Linked DNA regions of Homo sapiens. The protein of the gene in region 1 purifies or fractionates together with the protein of each later gene. This does not show direct contact. Each region holds a gene or a part of one and is shown in the gene's direction. Other genes may lie near its edges.

Region 1 (3,500 bases):
TTGCAATGAGCGGAGATCGCGCCACTGCACTCCAGCCTGGGCGACAGAGCGAGACTCCTTCTCAAAAACAAACAAATAAATAAATAAATAAAGATATATTTGTGTGGGCCAGGCGCGGTGGCTCACAGTTGTAATCCCAGCACTTTGGGAGGCCGAGGTGGCCCCGTCTCTACTAAAAATACAAAATTAGCCAGGTGTGGTGGCGCATGCCTGTAATCCCAGCTACTCGGGAAACTGAGGTGGGAGAATCGATTGAACCTGGAAGGTGGAGGTTGCGGTGAGCCAAGATCATCCTGTCGCACTCCAGCCTGGGCAACAAGAGCGAAACTCCATCTCAAAAAGAAAAAAAAAGATATATTTGTGTGACTTACAGGTACAGGTAAAGTTGCTTCTGGTTTTCTGGTTGTTGCATGGTATTTCCTATGCAGCCACAGCTCTTTATTTTCTTACTTAAGTGCCTCCAACTTCCCATAACACAAATTAAGGCATGATGAACATCCTCTCTGTGCTGAACATCCTGTGTATGTCACTTTAGAAGCCTGTGTGACGGTTTCTTTAGTCTTTATACCTAGGGGTGGGATTTCTGGGTCATAGGACAGTAATTTATATTTATTTTCACTAAGTATTCTCTTTCTCTGGCTTTTGTTACATATTACCTGTTTGTCCTCCAGAAAACTTGCACCAATTTACATTCCTACCAATAGGGTAGGAGAGTGCACACTGGGTGGATTCTAACTCCAAATCTAACACCTCTTCTTTTCTTTGTTTCTAGCAGCCATGGCAATGACAGGCTCAACACCTTGCTCATCCATGAGTAACCACACAAAGGAAAGGGTGACAATGACCAAAGTGACACTGGAGAATTTTTATAGCAACCTTATCGCTCAACATGAAGAACGAGAAATGAGGTAAAGAATTTTGTTTGAAAAAATTGTGTCATGGTTGTGGCATTCCTTTCTCGTATTGTAAAACACTTATAATGCTGAAAGGAGACAAGAATAGTAGCAGCCTTATTATAGACTATCATAATGGAATGACAGTGAAAGGGCTTTTCAAAGTCCCTGCCATTAACCCACTTATGCCTACAAGTCAATAACACAAACTTCTATTGAAATCCAAGAAAAAAAATGATACTTGGGAGGTTGAGTTGGGAGGATTGCTTTAGCCCAGGAATTTGAGGCCAGCCTGAGCAACACTGAGACTCTGTATCTTAAAAAAAAAAAAAAAAAAAAAATTAGGCCCAATCCAAGGAGTTGATTGTTAAGGCAGAGTGGTATAATGGAATAGCAGCCCTTTTGGAGTCAGACTTGGGTTTAGAGTCCTGCCAGTTTCATTGAATAGCTGTATGAAGCTCTAATAAGTTCCTTAGTCTTTCTGTGAATTGGTTCCCTCATCAGGAAAATGGGGATAATACTACTTGCCTTGCAGGATTGTGTTGGGGATTAGATATAACATATGTGAGTATGTACCATAGTGTTTCACACATAGTAGTCACTTAGTTAATGGTGGTAGTATCAGCTATTGTTATTACTGATCTGGTGTATACTGTCCACTTAGTAACTCATAATTTATTTATTGGTTTTTTTTTTTTTTTGAGATCGAATCTCACTCTGTTGCCCAGGCTGGAGTGCAATGGCATGATCTCAGCTCACTGCAGCCTCTGCCTCCTGGGTTCAAGCGGTTCTCGTGCCTCAGCCTCCTCAGTAGCTGGGACTACAGGTGTGAGCCACCACGCCTGGCTAATTTTTGTATTTTTAGCAGAGACGGGGTTTCACCATGTTGGCCAGGCTGGTCTTGAACTCCTGACCTCAGGCATTCCACCTGCCTCGGCCTCCCATAGTGCTGGGATTACAGGCATGAGCCACTGCTTGGCTGTAACTCATAATTAAAAAAAAATTTTTCCCAATATTTTACTATGAAAGTATTCAGAAGTACAGAAAACTTGTAATAAACAGTGAATATATACATATATATCATCTAGAGTCTATAATGGTTATTTATTATATTTGTTTAACTGCATATCCATCTATCCATTCTTGTATCTGTCATTAATCCATCTTAATTTCCTTTTTTTTTTTTTTTTTTTTTGAGACAGAGTCTTGTTCTGTCACCCAGGCTGGAGTGTAGTGGCGTGGTCTTGGCTCACTGCATCATCTGCCTCCTGGGTTCAAGTGATTCTCCTGCCTCAGCCTCCCGAGTAGCTGGGATTACAGGCATGCGCCACCACGCCCAGCTAATTTTTGTATTTTTAGTAGAGACAGGGTTTCACTGTGTTGGCCAGGATGGTCTTGATCTCTTGACCTCTTGGCCTCCCAAAGTGCTGGGGTTATAGGCGTGAGCCACTGTGCCCGGCCAATCCATCTTAATTTTTTGCCTCACTTCAAGGTATGTTGTAGACATCAGTATACTTCTGAATATTTCTGCTTATATAACATTAACTAGAATTCAGTATTTATACTTTTTGGGGAAGGGTGTAAAATTTATATACAATGGAATGCACAAGTTCAAGGGTACCATTTTATGAGTTTTGACAATTGCATACACTTGTATAACTTAAACCTTTATCAAAACAGAACATTACGTCTCCCAGAAAAAGTTTTCATGCCTCTTGGTTCTTCAACCTTAGACAAAGACAACCACTGTTGTGATTTTTTTTTTTTCTTTTTTTCTTTTTTTGAGACGGAGTCTCACTCTGTTGCCCAGGCTGGAGTGCAGTGGCGTGATCTCGGCTCACTGTAAGCTCCGCCTCCCAGGTTCACGCCATTCTCCCACCTTAGCCTCCCGAGTAGCTGGGACTACAGGCGCTTGCCACCAAGCCCGGCTAATTTTGTTTTTGTATTTTTAGTAGAGACGGGGTTTCACTGTATTAGCCAGGATGGTCTCAGTCTCCTGACCTCGTGATCCACCTGCCACAGCCTCTTGAAGTGCTGGGATTACAGGCGTGAGCCACCGTGCCTGGTTGTGATTTTGTTTCTATCATAGTTTTGCCTATTTCATACAAGTGGAACACATAAATGGAAACATGTAGTATGTACTCATTTGAGCAAGGCATCTTTCATTTAGCATATTTTTTTTTTTGTCGAGACGGGGTGTTGTTTTGTTGCCCAGGCTGGTGTGCAGTGGCACTATCATAGCTTACTGCATCCTTGACCTCCCAGGCTCAAGCGATCCTCCTGCCTCAGCCTCCCAAGTAGCTGGGACTACAGGTGCATGCCACCATGCTTGGCTAATTTTTAAAATTTTCTGTAGAGACAGGGTCTCACTTTGTTGTCCAGGCTGGTCTCGAACTCCGGGGTTCAAGTGATCCTCCCACCTTAGCCTCCCAAAGTGCTAGGATTACAGGTGTGAGCCACCACACCTGGCCAGCATATTTTTGAGGTTCCTCTGTGTTGCTATATGCATCAATAATTTGTTCCTTTTTATTGTTGGTACTATTCTGTCTTCTGACTATATCTTTGTTTGTCCATTCTCCTATTGATAAACACCTGGGTTCTTTTCAG
Region 2 (4,098 bases), on another chromosome or scaffold:
CTGGGCGTGGTGGCTCATACCTGTAATCCCAGCACTTTGGAAGGCCGAGGTGGGTGGATCACTTGAGGTTGGGAATTCGAGACCAGCCTGACAGACATGGAGAAACCCTGTCTTTACTAAAAATTCAAAATCAGCTGGGCATGGTGGCGCATGCCTGTAGTCCCAGCTACTCGGGAGCAGAGGTTGCGGTGAGCCAAGATCGCGCCATTGCACTCCAGCCTGGGCAACAGGAGCAAAACTCCTCCCCCTCAAAAAAAAAAAAAAAAAAAGAAATCTGGTGGCTCACGCCTGTAATCCTAGCACTTTGAGAGACCGAGGCAGGCGGATCACCTGACATCAGGAGTTTGAGACCAGCCTGGCCAACATGGTGAAACCCCTTATCTACTAAAAATACAAAAATTAGCCGGGCGTGGTGGCGGGTGTAATCCCAGCTACTTGGGAGGCTGAGGCAGGAGAATCGCTTGAACCTGGGAGGCGGAGGTTGCAGTGAGTGGAGATGGCACCACTGCACTCCAGCCTGGGCCACAGAGCGAGACTCCATCTCAAAAAAAAAAAAAAAAAAAAAAGTGAAGTCTTTACATAAATGGATTACGTGTGCTGCCCTTTGAGAAGTTTGTTGATGAAAGGAGAAAGGAAATAGTAGCACCAGAGGAAAAGATCAGGGATTTACCCTGTTCTTACAGGATAACAGCTCCTTGCTCTTTTCAGCTAGCTTTTCAAAGGACAGGGATAGGACAGCCCCCTGCCTTATTTCGGATACTTGGATCTATAACCTCCAGAAATTCAAGCTGAAGTAGCTGGAGGTCGGAGAGGAATGAGAACTGCCTGGGTGGGGTCTGCCAGCCAGACACTGCCAGGATAGCCACAAGGAGACGACTTGGAAGAACAGACAGCAACCACGTTGGACTCAGGCAGTCCTGGGTTTGAATCCTGTCTCTGTCACCACCTAGCCTGATGACCTTGGGCACATCCTGAGCACCCTGTGCCTTATCTGTAAAATGGAAACAATCATGCCGACCTTTCAGGGTGGTTTTGAGGATTAGAGACTAGCTCCTGACACACAGTAGGTAATCGTAAATGGGTGCTATTGTTTGGCCCGACCCACGTTATAGGACAGAACGTCTAACGGATGCGTCAGAACCTGCGCCCTCCGGATCTTGGAGGGTACAGAGGGCGCCCCTCGGCCTCCTCCCTTTCGGAGGTGGGGACAAGGTGGAGGAAGGGCTGCAGGAGGAGGAGCTCTAGCATCGCGACCCGCCCCGTCCCGTCCAGTCTGGCCTGGGCGCCGCGGGAACGCTGTCCTGGCTGCCGCCACCCGAACAGCCTGTCCTGGTGCCCCGGCTCCCTGCCCCGCGCCCAGTCATGACCCTGCGCCCCTCACTCCTCCCGCTCCATCTGCTGCTGCTGCTGCTGCTCAGTGCGGCGGTGTGCCGGGCTGAGGCTGGGCTCGAAACCGAAAGTCCCGTCCGGACCCTCCAAGTGGAGACCCTGGTGAGGAGATAGTCCCGACCCTCAGCCCCCGTGGGCCGAGCCTTGTTGGGTGGTAATACTGGGGTCTCAGCGAACCTGGGAGCCGGGAGGAGAGGAAGTGCGGGAACTGAGTTGGGGGTGGTGCCGGGTCTAGGGGCGAGAACGGGATCTTTGGAAGAGCATCCGTGACCCCTGTAGTCCGATCGTAGGTGGAGCCCCCAGAACCATGTGCCGAGCCCGCTGCTTTTGGAGACACGCTTCACATACACTACACGGTGAGGGGTCTGGGGGGCCGGGGCGGGGCCTGGGAGGGGGCGGCGCCCTGCTGAAACACGTCAGCTTTGGCTTGGACACGTGGCAAGCGGTTCGGGAGAAGAAACTCGGGGCTCTGGGGTCGTCGAGCACGTGGCGAGGGGAGAGACGTTGCTCTTCCGTGCCTCTTTTCCCTCCTTGCTTTTCTGCCAGTTCCTACCTGGCACGGAGAAGTGCAGGGTGGAGAGATCTCCGAGAAGCGCCAGCCTTCTGGGGCTTCCTGTTCCTTACAGCGGTAAGGGGAACGCTAGGCTGCCGCACTAAGGGGGCTGCCGCCGCCCAGCGGTCCAGGTGTGTGTTGCGCGCCTGCTGGGAGGGAGAGGGTGCTAGATGTATGCTCTTGATGCTCTCTCCCCCCAGGGAAGCTTGGTAGATGGACGTATTATTGACACCTCCCTGACCAGAGACCCTCTGGTTATAGAACTTGGCCAAAAGCAGGTGATTCCAGGTATGTGACCTGTGCCTCCCATTCCACCTCTTCCCAACCTAAGCCCTTTCTTAGCCTCTTCGGCTCCAAAGCTGCCCTGGAAATCCCCCCTGAAATGAGTAAGACCCTAGGGCTCTACGAGTTACCTCCTGAGGTTCAAACCTCACTTCTAGTACTCCACTTGTCCCATATCCTATTGGAAGCCAGAGATTTAAGAAGTGAGGGAAAGGTCAATTGAGGATGGAGGAGGAAGACTTTGATCTTCATGTCATGGGATTTGGGGAAGGTGGATAGCTTCCAGTTCAGTTGTGTCTTCTTCTTCAAGGTCTGGAGCAGAGTCTTCTCGACATGTGTGTGGGGTGAGTATCTCGGCAGGGGTGGGCCTGGGTACCCCCTTTGCATGGGTAGAGGCTTTCTCGGCCATCCTCACTCCTTAAGCAGGAGAATGTGGAATAAAGGACCCTGCTTCCCACTGGACAGGTCCAGGTCAGTGGGACCTCTGAGGGCATTCAAAGCCTCTGTGCCTCTTGCGCTGTTGCTTTTGTCGGGGGAGTTGAGGCACATGGGGAGATGGACACCTTTGCTGGCCAGCCTGTTTGGTGTTCAGGTGGAAAAATTCGTGTTTTGGGTGTGAAGATTCAGGGGGTTTTGCTGAAGGAGCTTCAGCTGGACTGAGGCTGCTGGCCTACCTCTCCTGCCTCTGGCTGTGACTGACATTCCTTCCCTCAGAGAGAAGCGAAGGGCAATCATTCCTTCTCACTTGGCCTATGGAAAACGGGGATTTCCACCATCTGTCCCAGGTAATCTGACTAGGACTCTCTCTCAGGCCATCAAAATACCCAGTCCCTAAGAGCTATAAGGAGCTATATACTTTGTTTGATGCTTGAGAAGATCCAGACCAAGTTTGTTTAGACAGATAGGAGTGGCTGGGGCCTCCATCTACAGGGCCACCTTTTTCCTCCTCATATCACCAACAGGGACTAAAGACAACCTGATGAGGCCACCTGGCATGACCTCCAGCAGCCAGTAACTTGTTAGGGAAGAGACCTGCTTGGGCCACATGGGTCTGCTGCCTGTGCCACCACCTTTCCCAGAACACTGGACTTCTTTCCTGCCCTTTTCTACAACTCTACGCTGTGTCAGCTGTACAGCCACCCCCCACCCCTTCCTTTCAGCCTCCATCAGGGAAGAGACAGTAAAAATAATCACAGTCAAGTGATTCAAAACAAAACAAAAAGCAACTGTTAAAGCCAAGTCTGCCCCATAACTTTAAAAGCCATCATTGGTCACTGCCGATGTCTATTTTTGAAGGGTTGAGATGGACAGATTTCCCAAGATGCATATCTTTTGCTTTCAGTTCTAACAAATGTTCTATTAGCTAAAATGTGTTGTACTCCACAGAGTATTGGGCTCGTAATTCTTTTTTTTTTTTTGAGATGGAGTTTCACTCTTGTTGCCCAGGCTGGAGTGCAATAGTGCAATCTTCACTCACCACAACCTCCGCCACCCGGGTTCAAGCAATTCTCCTGTCTCAGCCTCCCGAGTAGCTGGGATTACAGGCATGCGCCACCACGACCGGCTAATTTTATACTTTTAGTAGAGATGGGGCTTCTCCATGTTGGCCAGGCTGGTCTCAAACTCCCAACCTCAGGTGATCCGCCTGCCTTGGCTTCCCAAAGTGCGGGGATTACAGGCATGAGCCACCGCGCCTGGCTGGGCTCGTTAATTCTTATCCTAGTTCCAGCTTAGAGGAAGGCCTGGAAGGAGGGTAGGGGGACCAAGGAGAAACTTTTACCCAAAGCCCTATTACCTCCCCATTCCCAGTGCTGCTTATTTGTACCTCTTCTGCCCACTCATTTCTGTTCCACCTGCCCCTTTACTTCTTAAGC
Region 3 (3,500 bases), on another chromosome or scaffold:
GCTGCTCATGGTCTAGAGGATGATTCTAGGTGATACACAGGTCAACATTTTTTGTTTCAGTAGCCAGCTATTTCACAGGTATTATTGCTTACAATTGGAAAAAATTTTTTTGAGTTAACATTAAAGATGTTAGTTGAATATGGCAAAAAATGTGAAAATGATATGTAATGGATTGAAGTTTGGGAAACATTAGAAGACAGAGAAGAAAGAGAGAAGAAAAAGAGGAAAGGATCAGACAAATAAAGATAATGATAACTTCATTAAGATAAAATGAAATCATAAAGGCAAAAAATCCATATACTGGAAACATAAAAATTACCTTAGCCGTTGTTGCGCAGGTTGCAGCTCTGACCTGAGACATTTTGGGAGGCACTTTTCAGGGGCACTCCGCATTCTGAAAATGTAGAGAATTTTCCAAATAAGAAAATTTGCCTTAACGAGAATTCAGGGAAAGCCACTGACAAGCTACAGACTTCCAGCTAAGTCATGTTAGTTAGGATGATGCTTGGGAGCATCAGTGATGCACTTTCAACATCAATTAGAAATCTGGGAGGCAAATGGAATGCTCGATAGTATTCATATCTTGTTTAGTTTGGCAAAAGAATGAAAGTTTCAATATTTTGTTGAAAAATCGTTTCATAATTTGGAAAGTGCCTAGCACAATGCCTGGCTCAAAGTGAGTTCTCAATGGCTGATCACTACCACTATTGTAATTTATGTCATTAATCTTCCTGGTTCTTCCCAGCGTGGGATCAGAAGGGGGAGAGAATACTTGGGCACATGGAAATAGAAGGATGTATGAGAACCAGGCTGGTCATGTAGCTTGATGCCTTTTCTTCCTGTCCTGGGCAAGGAATGGCTACAAGAGGTTACTATCAAGAGTTCCAAAGTAAGGAGAGATGGACTCCTGCCATCTGTAAAGAACTGGATATTTTGAATGTTTAATAAAACTCTTTTTAAGATAAACTTTTATATTGACTGCAAAAAATAAAAAGGAAGCTGCATAAGGCTTGATAGGGCATAATTTTTTTCACTATTCTATGGGTAAAGCCATAATAAAATAAACAACTTGATTATATTGACAAAAAGTGTTTATAAAGATATATTTAATGCCATGAAAAAATTTCAGTAGATAACATTAAGAAAAAAACATAAGAGAGAGCAGCTTTAACATTATATATAGTTTGTGCTTAATTGTATATGCACATACATTATAAACTACTAAGCAAAAAAAAAAAACAGTTAAGCCTATATGATCTTAAGAGGGAAGCATTTTGTCATTCAAGCAGCTGGTAATGGAAAATAAATTAATGTTAATGTTGAAAAAAGAAGCTTGTAGTACTTATATAATTAAACTTTATTTTACTTCATTTTTCAGACATTAGTAAATTTACTTGGTGCCCGAGATACTAATGTTCTATTGGGTTCCCTTCTGGCTCTGGCTAGTTTAGCAGAAAGGTAAGTAGTGTATTCTAATATACTTTCCAGTTCTGCTACTATAGCAATTTAGGTGGTAAGGATGCAAAATAATCAGTTACTTTGTCAACTACTTAATACAATTTCTTGATAAATAAGTGTGAAATAACATGTTGAAGAGAATCCTGGATAGAAGGCATTATTTAAAAATTTAAACTGGAAAGGCAAATTGCAGTTTAAAATTTTCTTTTTATTTCCTGACTGGAAATATTTAGTCTTTTCATCTAACCCTCAGTTACTTCTAATTTCAAAATTACCATAATATTTCTTTGGCAGTTGAATCTTTCTGACCATCTTAATTCATTCTTACCTGTGAATTTTAACATACAGAACGTTTTCAAACATCTGTGGGCTTTGAAAAATTTTCAAGAAGATCTTTCCTCTTATAAATGTCATGATTATTTTAAATGTTTTTATGACAATAAGTGGACCATTGCTTTTCTGTGAATAACATATGATTCCTTTTGTTTTTTGATCTCTTCTCCCAAGATAATATTGGAGCTAGGATATTAAATAAATAAATTTATATGGTTAGGCTTTGTGTCCCCAACCAAATCTCATCTTGAATTGTAATCCCTGTAATCCCCATAATTCCCTCATGTCAAGGGAGAGACCAGGTGGAGGTCATTGAATCATGGGGCCATTTCCTCCATGCTGTTCTCATGATAGTGAGTGAGTTCTCATGAGATCTGATGGTTTTATAAGGGGCTCTTCCCCCTTGGCTCGGCACTTATCCTTCCTGCTGCCTTGTGAAGAAGGTGCCTTGCTTCTCCTTTATCTTCCACCATGACTGTAAGTTTCCTGAGGCCTCCCTAGCCATGCTGAACTGTGAGTCAAGTAAACCTCTTTCCTTTATAAATCACCCAGTCTCAGGCAGTTCTTTATACCAGTTTGAAAAAGGACTAATACATGGATCTAGCAAAATATGCTTTTAGTAATTGCTAATATTTTTCAATTTATAGTCAAGAATGTAGGGAGAAGATAAGTGAACTCAACATTGTAGAAAATCTGTTGATGATTTTACATGAATATGACTTGCTTTCTAAAAGGTAGGATTGCTAACAGTAGAAAAAGACAATGCAGTGCCTTTATTTGACAGATACACTTGTTATTATTTTTATTACGTCATGTTATTTACATTGTAACTGAATATGATGAGTCAGCTTGGCATTTATTTTCTGTTTAAGTTTATATAAAGAAAATAGAGCAAAGAAGTATATCCATTTATGTTTAGTCCTGCATTACTTCTAGATCTGGGCATAGAAGCTGATGAAATAAATTTTTGTGATATCATTTTTAATGTTTTGTTTATTGCATTTATTTATATCCTGCCTTTTTAGGGAAAGAAACTCTGAGGTGGCTCTAGTTTTAGTAATTTCAAATTGTATATTACAATAAGTGATTAGGTTGCTAAAATCCATTTGCATGAAGGCAAGTAAAATAAGATAGCAACTGACTTGTTTTGTGATCACCTGCTATGATAACTCAAAATCTAGAGTAAAATGGATTCATTTTTACTTGAACTGCATATTGTTCTAATAACTATCCAGATAGTTATTAGATTGTACTTAAATAGAGTTGCAATCTATATCATTTGATATTTAGTTGAGTAATTTTCTAAAGAGGCAAAATAGATAAAAAGAAATCTCCAGCAATGGAGCCCTGACACTTAACTCATAGTAAATCCTTTTGGATTCTTCTTCAAAACTCTCATAAAAGAGCATTAAATATAGATAATACTTATAGACTTGGTTATCTGAACAAACAAGGTTCCAAGCTTGGTACCAGGTGTTGAAAACCAAAGATGAATAAGTTATAAATATGTAGTGTAGAAGAGGGTCAAACAGTGCTATAACTGATACGGTAGACAGATGCACAGGGTACTCTGGGAACATGGAGCAGAGACTTCCCAATTAGAATGTGGAGTCATGCAAAGTTTCCTGGAGGAAAGAGAAGATATCTAGGCAGAGAGAGAGAGACAACATAAAAACAGTATGTGCTTGGACATGGAGGCATGAAATTGG
Region 4 (3,500 bases), on another chromosome or scaffold:
AGATTTCCTTAAAATTGCTGGTGGTAAGTGCCTTTTACATAATGTGGCTTTAGTTAATAAGAATCTAAAAATTTTGCATACTTAAATTTAGCAAGAGTAGGTGAATAGGGTCATGAATGGTTTTTATTTTCTAATGGAACATGGGAATAGATTTTCTTCCCCAGAGGTAGAAGCTTCCGATAATAACAGTGAGCTTAATGTATAACACTTGTCCTAAGGCTTGAGCCAACTTACTATAGTTAAATAGCCATTAAAAATAGTACTATACAAAGGTGAAAAGGTGATATGAAGTTGTATGCATATGGAAAGGCTAGGTTTTTTTGTTTTGTTTTTTTGGAGACAGAGTTTCGCTCTGTCACCCAAACTGGAGTGCGGTGGCACAATCTCAGCTCGTTGCGACCTCTGCCTCCCAGGCTCAAGCAATTCTTGTGCCTCCGCCTCCGTAGTGGCTGGGTTTACAGGTGTGTGCCACCATGCCTGGCTAACTTTTTGTATTTTTAATAGAGATGGGGTTTCACCATGTTGGCCAAGCTGGTCTGGAACCCCTGGCTTCAAATTGATCCTCCTGCCTCAGCCTCCCAAAGTGCTGGGATTACAGGCCTGAGCCCCTGTGCCCGGCCAGGAAATGATATTCTTGAAAAGAGTCAGAAAACTGCTTTCAAACGGCCACGCTGCAATACCTGGGATTGTTGCACATGTGCTTCTAATTTTTCTCTAAACTTAACACATGAGTCACCAGAAACATGGTAGTTTTGGGTCTCGTAGTATTTTTGGATGTGTATTTACAGTAATATGGTTAAAAACAGGGTGGAACAGATGTGGTTTTTATCCAGTTATTTAGTGATTAATAACTTTAAAGGAAGTAACATGCATAAAACGTTGACTGCTTTTTGTCTGATTTTTTTCTATATATATATCTACTTTGTAAGTTTCTGTTGCTCATTCATATTGTTTTATAATTTCCTTTTAATGTATATTAACATCATCCTACATTACTCAATTTTCTTAAATGTTAATTGCTACATAGTATTATATGTACCATAATATTTTGAAACATCTCTGTTGGAGCTGGGCACATGGCTTGTGCCTGTAATTCCAGCTACTTGGGAGGCTGAGACAGGGAGGATTGCTTGAGCCTTGGTGTATTTTGAGAATGGCCTGAGCAACATAGTGAGATTCTGTCTGTAATAAATAAAATATCCCTGTTGAGCATTTAGAACTCATTTCCAACTTTTGACTTTAATATGTTGTCAATATTTTAAAATCTCTGTATGCGCCACTCATTGGGATAAATCTCTAAAAGCAGGATAGCTGAATCAAAGAATTTTGGACCTTTTCAACAGCCATTTGACACCTATTGCCAAATTATATGAAGATGACTTTCACTGTGTAAAAGAACATTTGTATTCCTACATTACAGAGCCTGGGTGAAAATTTTGCAGCTATAGAACTTACCGGAACAGCATCCTATTAACACAATCTGCTGGTATATTTTTGCTCCAGTTCATCTTTAGATAAACTCTAAGGCTTCAAAATTCAGGACTTCAAATTTAGGAGCATTTCCAGAGTTCCCAAGCAATGTTTGATATTGTTAGGGGTCAAATATATTTGGGGTTGCTGTGGTTTTACCTAAATCCTGACATTTCATGATAGATGCATTGCAACTTGGAGATGGCAAAGTCAATTGTTTATATCATTTCTGGGATTTCATTGTATATGGGCACTGCGATAAGAATTTGCTATTAGGGGCTGGGCTTGGTGGCTCATGCCTTTAATGCCAGCACTTTGGAAGGCCAAGGCAGGCGGATCACTTGTGGTCAAGAGTTCGAGGCCAGCCTGGCCAATATGGTGAAACCCCATCTCTACTAATAATACACAAATTAGCCAGGAGAGGGGTGTGTGTGTGTGTGTGTGTGTGTGTAATCCCAGCTACTCTGGGAGGCCGAGGCAGGAGAATCAACTTGAATCTCTGCGGCGGTGTTTGCAGTGAGCCGAGACCGTGCCACTGCACTCCAGCCTAGGAGACAGAGTGAAACTGTGTCTCAAAAAAAAAACAAAAAAGAAGCAAAAAGAAGAACGTGCTATTAGGGAAAATGTTACTAGTGTATGAGTTTCAAAGATATGCATTTAAGTATTTGCTATATGACAACACTGTACAAAATGTTTTATGTTGGGCAGAATGTTGATCAATATTGAAAGTAGGTACCCCATATATTCATTATACTATTCTTTTTACTAAGAATGTTTGAACCTTTCTTAATTAAAAAAAAAAAAGGTAATTGAGTTACTTGCAGATGGTTTTCTTGGGAGCAAAAGAGTAATCAGGAAAAGATTTTTTTAACCCAAAGTGCTTTATATCTATTACCCTACTTAATTTTCATAATTTATGACATAGGCAATCTTACAGACAAGAAAAGTAAGGCACGGAGTTGAACTTGACTAAGATTATGCCCTAGTAAGCAGTAAAGCCAAGATTGGACCCAGGCATTCTGGCTCCAGGACCTGTGCCTTTAACTACCACAATGACTTACTAGTGATTGGCCCGTGATTTAATTGTCTTGCCAGCTTCCTAAATTAAGAAGGATGTTTTATGAAAAAGGGGAGGAGTTTCAAATTTAGAAAATTCTGATTTCTAGGATGTTATTTTGCGTTCAGTAGGAGTATGGGTCTTCATTATGAACTCAAGACATTGGCAGGACTTTTATCACTTTAAAATCGGTAAAGTTGATGTCTTAACTATTTCTCTCCCTGCTTCCTAATATTTGTTTTCCCTAGGTACTTCCAATGAGGTAGCCCAGTTTCTCTCCAAGGAAAATCAAGTCATTGTCCGCATGCGGGGGCTCCCTTTCACGGCCACAGCTGAAGAAGTGGTGGCCTTCTTTGGACAGCATTGCCCTATTACTGGGGGAAAGGAAGGCATCCTCTTTGTCACCTACCCAGATGGTAGGCCAACAGGGGACGCTTTTGTCCTCTTTGCCTGTGAGGAATATGCACAGAATGCGTTGAGGAAGCATAAAGACTTGTTGGGTAAAAGATACATTGAACTCTTCAGGAGCACAGCAGCTGAAGTTCAGCAGGTTGGTTTTAAAAACAAGTATGTTGTACCTTTGCATTAATTTCTGTTCTTTATCTCTGAAAATAGTCCTACATTGCTCATTATGTTAAAATAAAACTGGCAAAATACTAAAAGTGTAACTGCATGAAAATAGTCTTGATTCTATAACCAAGAGATAGCCGCTGTTATCCTGTACACACACACAACACATACTACGTATTTTTACAGAAATGGGATACTGCTATAGCTGGATTTTTGTATTCTGTTTTAAAACTATGAAAGCTTACCTATGTCTGAAAAGTTTCATCTTTAAATATCTCATGGAAGTGCATACTTTATCTAGAAATTCCTCTAGTGTACACTTAGATTGATTTTTTTCTACCAGAAGAAATTTCTATGTAAAATGCTTAAAAACCTGTCATCAATTTGATTTCTGTAGCATTGG

What was found. The genes of interacting proteins can lie anywhere in the genome.
Region 2: the proteins of STK38 (region 1) and FKBP11 purify together in Homo sapiens (affinity purification with mass spectrometry, with the first as the bait; one large-scale study listed by BioGRID). This does not show direct contact.
Region 3: the proteins of STK38 (region 1) and NEK10 purify together in Homo sapiens (co-immunoprecipitation; one large-scale study listed by IntAct). This does not show direct contact.
Region 4: the proteins of STK38 (region 1) and ESRP1 fractionate together in Homo sapiens (co-fractionation; one large-scale study listed by BioGRID). This does not show direct contact.

What each region holds. Positions count from the first base shown.
Region 1 is NC_000006.12:36,537,480-36,540,979, reverse strand, and holds part of STK38 (serine/threonine-protein kinase 38), read left to right. Parts: intron 1-190; exon of another isoform or gene 191-379; intron 380-772; 5' UTR 773-777; coding exon 778-908; intron 909-3,500. UniProt on the Homo sapiens protein: Serine/threonine-protein kinase that acts as a negative regulator of MAP3K1/2 signaling. Converts MAP3K2 from its phosphorylated form to its non-phosphorylated form and inhibits autophosphorylation of MAP3K2.
Region 2 is NC_000012.12:48,922,693-48,926,790, reverse strand, and holds the start of FKBP11 (peptidyl-prolyl cis-trans isomerase FKBP11 isoform 1 precursor), read left to right. Parts: upstream 1-1,298; 5' UTR 1,299-1,362; coding exon 1,363-1,491; intron 1,492-1,668; coding exon of another isoform or gene 1,669-1,679; coding exon 1,680-1,745; coding exon of another isoform or gene 1,746-2,017; intron 2,018-2,142; coding exon 2,143-2,230; intron 2,231-2,534; coding exon 2,535-2,568; intron 2,569-2,938; coding exon 2,939-3,009; intron 3,010-3,186; coding exon of another isoform or gene 3,187-3,239; exon of another isoform or gene 3,240-3,665; intron 3,666-4,098. UniProt on the Homo sapiens protein: PPIases accelerate the folding of proteins during protein synthesis.
Region 3 is NC_000003.12:27,306,884-27,310,383, reverse strand, and holds part of NEK10 (serine/threonine-protein kinase Nek10), read left to right. Parts: intron 1-1,378; coding exon 1,379-1,458; intron 1,459-2,438; coding exon 2,439-2,525; intron 2,526-3,500. UniProt on the Homo sapiens protein: Plays a role in the cellular response to UV irradiation. Mediates G2/M cell cycle arrest, MEK autoactivation and ERK1/2-signaling pathway activation in response to UV irradiation.
Region 4 is NC_000008.11:94,665,174-94,668,673, forward strand, and holds part of ESRP1 (epithelial splicing regulatory protein 1), read left to right. Parts: coding exon 1-23; intron 24-2,775; coding exon 2,776-3,077; intron 3,078-3,500. UniProt on the Homo sapiens protein: mRNA splicing factor that regulates the formation of epithelial cell-specific isoforms. Specifically regulates the expression of FGFR2-IIIb, an epithelial cell-specific isoform of FGFR2.